Homo sapiens: one gene and its partner. The protein of the gene in region 1 interacts with the protein of each later gene in a pairwise test. Each region holds a gene or a part of one and is shown in the gene's direction. Other genes may lie near its edges. The genes, in order: TMEM219 and IL13RA2.

Evidence for each region.
Region 2: the proteins of TMEM219 (region 1) and IL13RA2 interact in binary tests that used the Homo sapiens proteins (3 or more experiments, as listed by UniProt).

Annotation. Positions count from the first base shown.
Region 1 is NC_000016.10:29,957,438-29,965,334, forward strand, and holds the start of TMEM219 (insulin-like growth factor-binding protein 3 receptor isoform 1 precursor), read left to right. Parts: upstream 1-4,641; 5' UTR 4,642-4,695; exon of another isoform or gene 4,696-5,669; 5' UTR 5,670-5,706; coding exon 5,707-5,871; intron 5,872-5,962; coding exon 5,963-6,152; intron 6,153-7,897. UniProt on the Homo sapiens protein: Cell death receptor specific for IGFBP3, may mediate caspase-8-dependent apoptosis upon ligand binding.
Region 2 is NC_000023.11:115,003,412-115,007,835, reverse strand, and holds the end of IL13RA2 (interleukin-13 receptor subunit alpha-2 precursor), read left to right. Parts: intron 1-2,520; coding exon 2,521-2,639; intron 2,640-3,729; coding exon 3,730-3,756; 3' UTR 3,757-3,854; downstream 3,855-4,424. UniProt on the Homo sapiens protein: Cell surface receptor that plays a role in the regulation of IL-13-mediated responses. Functions as a decoy receptor that inhibits IL-13- and IL-4-mediated signal transduction via the JAK-STAT pathway and thereby modulates immune responses and inflammation.

The DNA of each region.
Region 1 (7,897 bases):
TAGTCCCAGCTACTTGGGAGACTGAGGCAGGAGAATGGTGTGAACCCAGGAGGCGGAGCTTGCAGTGAGCAGAGATCATGCCACCGCACTCCAGCATGGGCAACAGAGCGAGACTCCGTCTCAAAAAAAAATTTTTTTTTGGCCAGTCACGATGTGTCACACCTGTAATCCTAGCACTTAGGGAGGCCAAGGCGGGTGGATCACTTGAGGTCAGGAGTTTGAGACCAGCCTGGCCAACATGGTGAAACCCCGTCTCTACTAAAAATACAAAAATTAGCCAGGGACAGTGGCATGCCTCTGTAATCCCAGCTACTCAGGAGACTGAGGCAGGAGAATCACTTGAACCCAGGAGTTGGAGGTTGCAGCGAGCCGAGATCACACCACTTCACTCCAGTCTGGGCGACAGAGCAAGACTCCATCTCAAAAAAAAAAAGTCTAGATGGGGCCGGGCAGGGTGGCTCACACCTGTAATCCCAGCACTTTGGGAGTCTGAGGCGGGTAGACGGCTTGAGCTCAGGAGTTCGAGACCAGACTGCACAACATGGTGAGACCCCGTCTCTACTAAAAATACAAAAAGAGAGAAAAAAAAATAGCTTGGCATGGTGGTGCACACTTGTGGTCCCAGCTACTTGGGCGGATGAAGTGGGAGGATTGCTTGAGCATGGTGAGGAGGGAGGTTGCACTGAGCCAAGATTGCGCCACTGCCCACCAGCCTGGGTGACAGACCAAGACCCTGTCTCAAAAAAAAAAAGAAACAAAAAAAAGGTGGGGCTCACTGGCTCACACCTGTAATCCCAGCACTTTGGGAAGCTTAAGGTGGATGGATCACTTGAGGTCAGGAGTTCGAGACCAGCCTGGATGACATGGCAAAACCCTGTCTCTACTAAAAATACAAAAAAATTAGCTGGGCCTGGTGACGCACGCCTGTAGTCCCAGCTACTAGGGAGGCTGAGGCAGGACAATTGTTTGAACTCAGGAGGCAGAGGTTGCCGTGAGCTGAGATCGCACCACTGCACTCCAGCCTGGGTAACCAGAGTGAAACTCTGCCTCCAAAAAAAAAAAAGAAGAAGAAGAAAAAAGGTTTAGGCAAACATGCACTTTTCCTGTTGCTTTTTTTTTTTTTTTTGAGATGGAGTTTCGCTCTTGTTGTCCAGGCTGGAGTGCAATGGCGTGATCTCGGCTCACTGCAACCTCCGCCTCCTGGGTTCAAGCGATTCTCCTGCCTCAGCCTCCCAAGTAGCTGAGATTACAGGCATATGCCACCACGCCCGAATAATTTTGTATTTTTAGTAGAGATGGGGTTTCTCCATGTTGGTCAGACTAGTCTTGAACTCCCAACCTCAGGTGATCCTCCCGCCTCGGCCTCCCAAAGTGCTGGGGTTACAGGCATGAGCCACTGCGCCCAGCCTGAACATGCCAGATTGTAGTTCCAGGAGGCCAGAGATCATGAATACTTTGTCCACCACTATATTCCCAGCCCACAGAATACACAGCCTGGCAGCCAACAGATGCTTATTGAATGAACGAGCCTCAACAGGGCTTTCTCATTCCCACATGCCATGCTGTGGTCAGGCTTAAATCATAACCCAACTTCTGCCACCTAATATATGTATGACCTTGGTTAAATTAAACCAGCAGTCCCCAACCTTTTTGGCACTGGGGACCAGTTTCATGGAAGACAATTTTTCCACCAGGGGAGGAATGGTTTCGGGATGATTCAAGCACATTACATTTATTTTGCACTTTATTTCTATTATTATTACATTATAAGGTATAATAAAATAATTATACAACTCATCATAAAGTAGAATCAGTGGGATCCCTGAGTTTGTTTTCCTGCAACTAGATAGTCCCATCTGATGTTGATGGGAGACAGTGAGAGATCATCAGGCATTAGATTCTCATAAGGAGCAACCTAGATCCCTCGCATGCGCAGTTCACAATAGGATTCATGCTCCTATGATAATCTAATGCCGCTACTGATCTGACAGGAAGCAGAGCTGAGGCGGTAATGCAGGCAATGGGGAGTAGCTGTAAATACAGATGAAGCTTCTCTCACCAGCCATTCACTTCCTGCTGTGCGGCTCAGTTCCTAACACGTCACGGACTGGTACTGGCCCCACGGCCCAGGGGTTGGGGACCCCTGACTTAAACTAAGGGCCAGCTTTCCAGAATAACATCCACTTTGAGGGCTTGTTGAGTGGATTAAGTCAAAATGTTGGTATACTTGGCTGGTGCGGTGGTTCACACCTGTAATCCCAGCACTTCGTGAGTCTGAGGCGGGTGGATCACCTGAGGTCAGGAATTTGAGACCAGCCTGGCCAACATGATGAAACCCCATCTCTACTAAAAATACAAAAAATTAGGCCGGGCGCGGTGGCTCACGCCTATAATCCTAGTACTTTGGGAGGCCAAGGCGGGTGGATCATTTGAGGTCAGGAGTTTGAGATCAGCCTGGCCAATATGGTGAAACCCTGTCTCTACTAATAAGTACAAAAATTAGTCAGGTGATAGTGGCGTGTGCCTGTAATCTCAGTTACTCGGGAGGCTGAGGCAGGAGAATCCCTTGAGCCTGAGAGGCAGAGGTTGAGGTGAGCTGAGATTGGGCTGTTGTTGAGTTGTAGGAGTTCTTTATATATTATAGATATTAACCCCTTATAAGATATATGATTTGATATTTCCTCTCATTCTGTTGGTTGCCTTTTCACTGTCCTTTCCTTTTTTTGTTTTTGTTTTTTGTGGGGCAGAGTTTTGATCTTTTGCCCAGGCTGGAGTGAAGTGGTGCAATCTCAGCTCACTGCAACCTCCACTCCCCAGGTTCAAGCGATTCTCCAGCCTTAGCCTCCGGAGTAGCTGGGATTATAGGCGCCCGGCACCATGCCTGGCTAATTTTGTACTTTTAGTAGAGATGGGGTTTCACCATGTTGGCCAGGCTGGTCTCAAACTCCTGACCTCAGGTGATCCACCCGCCTCGGCCTCCCAAAGTGCTAGGATTACAGGCTTGAGCCACCGTGCCCAGCCTGTTGTGTCCTTCGATGCACAGAAAAGACTCTTTTCTCTACTGAACGCCCACAGCACCCTTGTCAAAAATCATTTGACTAGTCAGGGCACAGTGGCTCACGCCTGTAATCCCAGCACTTTGGGAGGCCGAGGCGAGAGGACTGCTTGAGGTCAGGAGTTCGAGACATGCCTGGGCAACATGGCAAATGGCAAAACCCCGTCTCTACACACAATGCAAAAGTTAGCTGGGCATGGTGGGTGGCGTGTGACTACCGGCTGTCTCAACTACCCAGGAGGCTAAGGCGGGAGGATCTCTTGAGCCCAAGACGTCCAGACTGCAGCGAGCTTTGATTGTGCCACTGAACTCCAGCCTGGGCGATGACAGAGCAAGGCTCTGTCAAAAAAAAAAAAAAAAAAAAAAAAAAATCGGCCGGGTGTGGTGGTTCACGCTTGTAATCCCAGCACTTTGGGGGGCCGATGCGGGCAGACCACGAAGTCAAGAGATCAAGACCATCCCGGCCAACATGGTGAAACCTCGTCTCTACTAAAAATACAAAAATTAGCTGGGCGTGGTGGCGTGCGCCTGTAGTCCCAGCTACTCGGAAGGCTGAGGCAGAAGAATAGCTTGAATCCGGGAGGCGGAGGTTGCAGTGAGTCGAGATCGCGCCACTACACTCCAGCCTGGCGACAGACTGAGACCCCGTCTCAAAAAAAAAAAAAATCATTTGTATATGCGAAGGTTTTGTGCCACAAACTTTTGTGGCTGTTGATACAAACGACATGGCCTCTGCCTTAAGGAAGCCACAGTCGAATTAAATAGATTCCGTTTCAAGTAGCATCTGTCCTGTGTGCTTAGTGGGCACTGGGCCCATGTTTTCCCACATTTTACCCTTTAAGCTTCTGATCCAACCGGTGAGATAGATAGGATGATCCTCTTTAGTAGAGGGGTAAGCTTAGTCCCCTGAGAGCGCGGCTATGGCTTATGCGAGGGTACGGACAGTCAGGATTTGAACCCAAAGTTCCTGGCTCCATGTGTCATGCTACCTCCAGTCAGATGTTCTCACCTCCAAAACTTGGGCAGAAGTGAACTGAGATGCTCTCTACTGAGCAACTCTTCAGCTCCAGCATCCTATACATTAAGGAGTCACTAAAAGTCAGGGTCCACGAGAAAGGTGCAGATCGGGGTGCACAGAAGAGCGGAGTCCAAAACACCACTCCCAGCCCCAGTGGACAGAGTCCTCAAGTGGCAGCCCTGCAACTCTGAGCGGATGCCGAGTCCTCACCGGGAACCCGGGCGCGGCTGGTCTGTGCTATTGGCGCGGGTAGGGGACGCACAGCCCAAAAATGCCCGCGACAAGCTTCTGGGGCAGTTCTCGCCAGTCTCTCTGGAGGGAGCCTACGGGTTCTGCGACGTTTCTCGCACTTGCTCCCTGGCCTCGCTCCCGTTTCCACCCCTCCCACGGAGGTTTTCCTTTCTGGTGGCTCCTTCCTTGGGTGTCCCTTTGGTACGCCCCCACCCTGGCGGTGAGCTGCGAGGCTGGCGCCCGCGTGGCCACTGCGCATGCGGACCCGGCCGCGGGGCGGGGCCGCGCGAGGAGGAGGGTCGGGGACGGAAGCGCAGAGCACGGACCCCGCCCCCTCGCGGCCCCGCTCGTGACGTCGCGGGGGGCGCCGGCCTCCGCCCGGCCCCGAGGGGTAAGAGCGAGCGGCTGGCGGATCCGACGCGCGAGACCGGGAGGGGACGAGGGCGTTGCAATCGTTCGGGGCGGGGGCTTTCCGGGGAGGGGGTGCTCAGGTGCACCAGCGGCGGCGGACCCTCAGACTCTGCCCTCCCCTCCCTTTAACCCCCTTCCAGCCGGACGGGAGGCGGGGCAGGGCTGAGCATTTGTGACACCTACATTTCCGTGGCTCCCTTCTTTTCCCCCGACCCCTGTTTATCTCTTCGCCTTCCAGAAGTTCTTTTCCATCAGGCCGTCGCACCTTGCGTGGGAAGGAGCACCCCACTTGGAAGCAGGAGGCGGGGTTCAGATCTTGGCCCTACCCCTCCTGTGTTAAAGTCCGCGAGCCTCAGTTTCCCTCACAGTATTTTTTGCCTCGCCTTACCCGGTTTTGAGGATCTGTACGAGAAAGAGAAAGGAAGTGGACATTTGTTGAATTCCTGCATGGCCAAATACCACGCAGACTGCTTCATCCGCCACGTTTAATCCTTATTACTTGGTGTTCTCAGAACTCCCATTTCATGGATTCTTAAGCTCACAGAGTCAGTGAATAACAGAAAGGGATTCAGATCTAGCCGTTTAGCTGCACAGTGGAGTTCTTCTCCAGAGTCTTCCCTTGTCTGGGCTCTGGCTGGAACTATTCCTCAGCCAAATCCTCGCCCCAGAACAGTGCTTCCTGTTTCTCCAGCTGAGAAGTCTCCCTTTCAGTTTCCTTCTTCCAGCACGGAGTACACTGCTCTGCCTCCACTTAGATTACTTCAGAAATGAAATGCAGCAAATATTTATCCAGCAGTGCAGGGAGTTGAACTTTTGGAGTCGGGAACCTTGGATTCTTGTTCTGGCTCTGCCACTTACTGTGTGGCCTTGGGAAGTCCTTTGTCTTCTCTGAGCTTTCTTTTCTCTTTGCGTAAAAGCGGTGCTCTTGTCCCATTCTCCCTCCCTGTCTTCCAGCAGGCTCTCCCCGGAGGCTCAGCCCCCTCTGCTCCCCATGGGCAACTGCCAGGCAGGGCACAACCTGCACCTGTGTCTGGCCCACCACCCACCTCTGGTCTGTGCCACTTTGATCCTGCTGCTCCTTGGCCTCTCTGGCCTGGGCCTTGGCAGCTTCCTCCTCACCCACAGGACTGGCCTGCGCAGCCCTGACATCCCCCAGGTAAGTTCCCCACCCCCGTACCCGCTCTTCCTTCCAACCTAGACAGGCTTTTGCTGCTAATCTCATCTCACCCGTCTTCTTTTGCTCACAGGACTGGGTCTCTTTTTTGAGATCTTTTGGCCAGCTGACCCTGTGTCCCAGGAATGGGACAGTCACAGGGAAGTGGCGAGGGTCTCACGTCGTGGGCTTGCTGACCACCTTGAACTTCGGAGACGGTCCAGACAGGAACAAGACCCGGACATTCCAGGCCACAGTCCTGGGAAGTCAGATGGGATTGAAAGGTGAGATCAGAGGCTGGGTGTGGTGGCTCACGCCTGTAATCCCAACACTTTGGGAGGCTAAGGTAGGTGGATCATTTGAGGTCAGGAGTTCAAGACCAGCCTGGCCAACATGATGAAACACCATCTCTACTAAAAATACAAAAATTAGCCAGGCATGGTGGCAGGCGCCTCTAATCCCAACTACTCGGGAGGCTGAGGAAGGAGAATCGCTTGAACCCAGGAGATGGAGGTTGCAGTGAACCGAGATCGCACCATTGCACTCCAGCCTGGGTGACAGAGCAAGACTCTGTCTCAAAAAAAAAAAAAAAAAAAATCAGGTGCGGTGGCTCATGCCTGTAATCCCAGCACTTTGGGAGTCCGAGAAGGGCAGATCACGAGGTTAGGAGTTCGAGACCAGCCTGGCCAACATGGTGAAACCCCGTCTCTACTAGAAATACAAAAATTAACCTGGTGGTCTGGTTGCGGTGGCCCACAGCGGTAATCCCAGCAGTTTGGGAGGCCGAGGCGGGCAGATCATGAGGTCAGGAGTTTGAGTCCAGCCTGACCAACATGGTGAAACCCCATCTCTACTAAAAATACAAAAATTAGCCGGGCATGGTTGCACGTGCCTGTAATCCCAGCTACTCAGGAGGCTGAGGCAGGAGAATCACTTGAAGCCAGGAGGCGGAGGTTGCAGTGAGCCGAGATCGTACCACTGCACTCCATCCTGGGCAACAGAGCAAAACTCGGTCTCAAAAAAAAAAATTAGCCAGGCTTGGTGGTGCAAGCCTGTAGTTCCAGCTACTTGGGAGGCTGAGGCAGGAGAATTGCTTGAACCCGGGAGGTGGAGGTTGCAGTGAGCCAAGATCGTGCCACTGTACTCCAGCCTGGGAGACAGAGCAAGACTCCGTCTCAAACAAACAAACAAACAAAAATACAAAAAGTAGCCAGGTGTGGTGGCAGGTGCCTGTAGTCCCAGCTACTTGGGAGGCTGAGGCAGGAGAATCGCTTGAACCTGGGAGGCGGAGGTTGCAATAAGCAGAGATCACACCACTGCACTCTAGCCTGGGCAACAGAGACTCTGTCCCGCCCCGCGCCCCCCCCACCACCCTGCGCCAAAAAAAAAAAAGTAAGGTGAGATCACAGAGGACTGTGGGGTCGGGTATCAGAACACTCAGGGCTGGGCCCTGCCTCTGACCTCACCAATGATGACCTTGGGCACATCCCTGGACTTTAGTCACTTCTGTGATTAGGGCTTTCAGTGAACATGCTGCCGACAGGGTAGGTTTTCTATGAATGCTTTCTTCCTCTGCCAGTTCTGATGTTCTTTGAGTCTATCCTTGGAGGTAGGATGAAATGGGCTAGGTTTGACCTAATGTTTTCTCATCCTTTAGCCACCTCCTCCTAGAGGCCCCTTTTTCCTTAGCATAGTTCTGTATGCCACAAAAGATGCAGAAAAAAATTAGACACCATCAATTTCCAAAGAGCTATAGTCTTCTGGGAAAATGACAAGCGATAGGGAGAATGTGAAAATGTCAGTGGATGCCAATAATCCCTGTGTGACATTTGGCCTTATCTAAAATATGCTAAGATAAAGAGGGATGGAAGAGGGTGGTATTTTCTGACTTCTGAGGTCCTTTACAACACTATCATTCTAAGATTCTCCTGTGAGTATATATGTGTCGGGGGAGTGGGTCTCTGCATGTCCAGATGTACATGTATGTTAACAAAAATAAGGAATGTGTCCGATATATGCAGACTTGGGA
Region 2 (4,424 bases), on another chromosome or scaffold:
TCCCATATAGTCTATGAACAGAGAGAATAAGTTAGGGAGCACTTCAATTGAATAAAGATTTATTAAAAGTCTAATATTCATTCAGTTAGGACTAGGAATATTGTTATACTTCTATTATCAAAATTCTTGTTTTTCTGTCAATATAGATAATATGCTCATTCTTTTGAGAGATTGGCAGGAACTTATTTTAATCAATATTTTCATATGCTTTCAGTATTCAAGAGAACAGAAATCTTAAAGCAAGTATAGATCAGCATACATTTGTTTCTGGGTGTCTAATACTATTCAAAAGGAATATTTTTCTAATTAAAAGGTCATGAATAGTAAAATACATATTCATTCCATTCACTTCTAACACTGATTTAAAGTGATTTGTGATAAAGTCATTTAAATTACATAGCAATATAAACTAAAAAGCCTAAAGAATGAGGTAAAATGTGATTGTGCTTCACAATGTATTAGCTTTAAGAGTAGAAATTACTAATAAATGTTCAAAATTGAAGGAAATCAACTCAGCATTGCTCTTTCAGGTACATAGATATAGATGCAGCTCTAAATAAATATACTGATGCTGATACAGACAGATACTGCCATATCTATCAATCATTCATCTCCTTTCATGTTGTTCTACTATAGTGGAATCTCTATTATCTCCCTACGAATACAGTGGTATCATTGATCCCTTTCATTCATCAAATATTTATTAAGCACCTACTATGTATCAGACTCTTTTCAAGCATTACAGATATGGCAGTAAAGAAATCTCTACCCTCAGTGAACTTACATTTTATTTCCAATTGGGTAGAGATAGGCAATAAACGAGAAGCCTAATAGATTATATAATCACTAAGGATTATGGAGAAAAAATAGCAAGACAGTGGAAAACTCAACCAAGAGCTATATGGAATCAGAAAGAAGACTTACTAGTTTTATGTTTTTCATTTTTGTTACTGTTTTAAAAAATCAGGAAACTCTAAAGTTATGTCCTGAACTATATCTCGTCATTAGTCAATGCATTGTATAAAGTGGTTATGGTGAGTTTTTAGCCATATCCTCAAAAAATATATTCTTTTCTGTATTTTACATGCAATCTTATCAATGATAGTGATGCCTAAGATTTCTCTTGCTTTGAGGGAAATCTTTTCCTTTTTTTGGTACAGAGTCTTGCTCTATCACCCAGGCTGGAGTGCAGTGGCATGATGTTGGCTCTCTGTCACCTCTGCCTCTTGGGTTCAAGCGATTCTCGTGCCTCAGCCTCCTGAGTAGCTGGGATTACGGGCATGCACCACCACGCCTGGCTAATTTCTGTATTTTTAGTAGAGACAGAGTTTCACCGTGTCGGCTAGGCTGGTCTTGAACTCCTGGCCTCAAGTGATCCGTCCACCTCGGTCTCACAAAGTGTTGAGATTACAGGCATGAGCCACTGTGCCCAGCCCTCTTCATAGAATCTTAATGACTTTGAAATTAGAAACAAGGAATTTCTTGAGTTGCATGTGGTCTCAGTTCTTTAGGACATTTCTTATTGGATGTTTCAAGTTATAGAAAAATAGGACAATAATATTTTTGGAAATAAAAGTATGTCCTCTTCAGGATTGACTCTGTATGGGGAAAGCCAGTAGAACTTCAGCAAAGGAGCTTCCTGCCTTCCCACTGTTAATTTTGCATGACAGATAACTTACATCAGTAATTTCTCTGGATTATATTCTTGTAAATCTTCTCTGAACACGTGAATTTGACTGATAATTTTCTAATAGAAAACAAGATCGTGAGGAAATAGGACAAAGAAAAAGGTGGGATCAAGAGAGCTTTGTAGATGCGTGGCTAAGATTCAAGATCTTTTATATTACTCCAAAACAAGTGAGAGGTACTAGTTTAGGGAGACCAAACTTCGTCTGCTTTTTAAGTTTGCCTAGTGATTGCTCATTTCTTGCTATGCAGAAGAACCATTAAAACTCCATCCCTAAACTAACAAAGCAAAATCAAAAAGAAAAGAAAAACCTTATCCCTCCCTTTGGTCTTTAAAATATGAGACAACTTTAAAAAGGTAACCTTAAAAGATGATTTCCATTACTCACACAGGAATTTTTATTGAAGGATACCTCTTGCTTGGTACAGTATCCTATGATCTAAGTACACGTTTGACTTACTGAGAGTTAAGAGACAGACACACAGGACATGTTTGTTTAATCACTTGGCTAATATTTTGTCATTTTTAAATGGAGAATTCACAAGGTCAAATATAAACAAACTCATATCAGGAAATAAGAATTGTGTTTGGGGAAGTTATTTTTCTAAGTGAAAATAAGACATGTCACAGTTCAGTAAAGTACTTTTCTATATAAAAATTGCACAAATGAAAGGAACGCTATACTCAAACACAATTGTGGTATTTATGCACTGGCAAATATGACAGGGGTTTCCAAGCTCAACTCAGTTCTGAAGTATTTATAAAATAATTCAGTTTCAAAAATAGTGGCAAATGTCTAACACTTCCCCTTTCCGTGTGATTTTTAATCCTAGGTGAAGACCTATCGAAGAAAACTTTGCTACGTTTCTGGCTACCATTTGGTTTCATCTTAATATTAGTTATATTTGTAACCGGTCTGCTTTTGCGTAAGCCAAACACCTACCCAAAAATGGTAAGATGTGTAACATTATGATGTTTAGCCTGAGAATAGGAGATTTTTAAAATGTTCTGCACTTAGAACTGATGGAGATACATTTTATAATTTTGCTTGTTCGCTGTGGGTGTACAATTGATTCCGTATGGATTATGATGTTATCTTCAGAAAATACAGCAATTTTTAAAAATTAAGCTTACAAGACTTCATTTTGAGGTGGATTTACTTTTGTCGAAATCAAACTTTAAACATGAAATACTATTTGGCCCTAGATTAGAGAATGGTATACGGAAAGAGTTACAAGAGAAAAGCAGGATTGGGAGAAATAGAAGAGTGAATTAAAATGATCATAGACTGAAACACATATTACCAGTGTGCCACAGGCACAAGAACACATGCAAATGATAAAGCATGGTGCCTGCCTTTGGAGCACACACTCAAGTTAAGGGAGACAGGATCCATACAAAAAAATATAACCTTTGAGATGATTTTAGATGATTGCCATTTGAGTCGTGCAGATAATGCTATAGAATTTCAGAAAACAATAGGACCACTCTGGGTTGGGGGGCTTTAAGGAGGAGTTGTAACCTGGAGAAAAATATCTTTTTGGGACAGGGTCTCATTCTGTCACTCAGGCTGGAGAGGAGTGGTGCAATCATGGTTCACTGCAGCCTTGGTATCTAGGGCTCAAGCAATCCTCCTGCCTCAGCCTCCTGGGTAGCTGGGACTACAGGCAGGCACCAACATAGCGGGACTCCATCTCTATAAAAAATTTAAACATTAGCCAGACACAATGGCTAATGTTTAGATTTTTTATAGAGATGGAGTCCCGCTATGTTGCCCAGGCTGGTCTCAAACTCCTGGGCTCAAGCAATTCCTCCCACTTTGGCCTCCCAAAGTGCTGGGATTACAGGTGCCAGCAACTGTGCCCAGCTGAGAAAAGATATCTCAATGCCATATCTTTTCAAGATAGAGAGAAAAGTGAATGTGTATAGAATGCTTCACTTTGTTTGCTGAATGCTCTTGTGCTTATTCTCTGAGTTGTTAATCTTCAGTGAAATAGTTTGTGTTATTAGAGATGACTTGTTAATAACAGAGTTCTTTCTAGATTCCAGAATTTTTCTGTGATACATGAAGACTTTCCATATCAAGAGACATGGTATTGACTCAACAGTTTCCAGTCATGGCCAAATGTTCAATATGAGTCTCAATAAACTGAATTTTTCTTGCGAATGTTGAATACGTCTTATTTTTAAATATTGTTGTATTTAAATAGGCTTTTGAGTACTCAAAGCCTCAGCTAGTAGTACATTTTCTGGATTCTATTAACAGTTTCTTTTCTCATAAATTCATAGTGAGAGTGCTGCACGTAGTTCTCCAATCAAGGTATGAGTCAGGTTTTATATTTATGATGTATTAATAAAACAATGTGACTTCACAGATTGCACTAAGCCACAGAGATATTGTCAGATCTTGGAAAATGAGATTCTAGTTTTTGTTGTTGTTTGTTTTAAACTGCACTTGGGATGAAAGTATACAGTATGAATAAAACTGTTTGGCTTTAGGCTGGGCGCAGTGGCTCATGCCTGTAATCCCAGCACTTTGGGAGGCCAAGGCAGGTGGATCACCTGAGGTCAGGAGATCGAGACCAGCCTGGCTAACATGGTGAAACCCCATTTCTACTAAAAATACAAAAAATTAGCCAGGCATGGTGGCGCGTACCTGTAATCCCAGCTACACAGAAGGCTGAGGCAGGAGAATCGCTTGAACCTGGGAGGCGGAGGTTGCAATGAGCCGAGATCA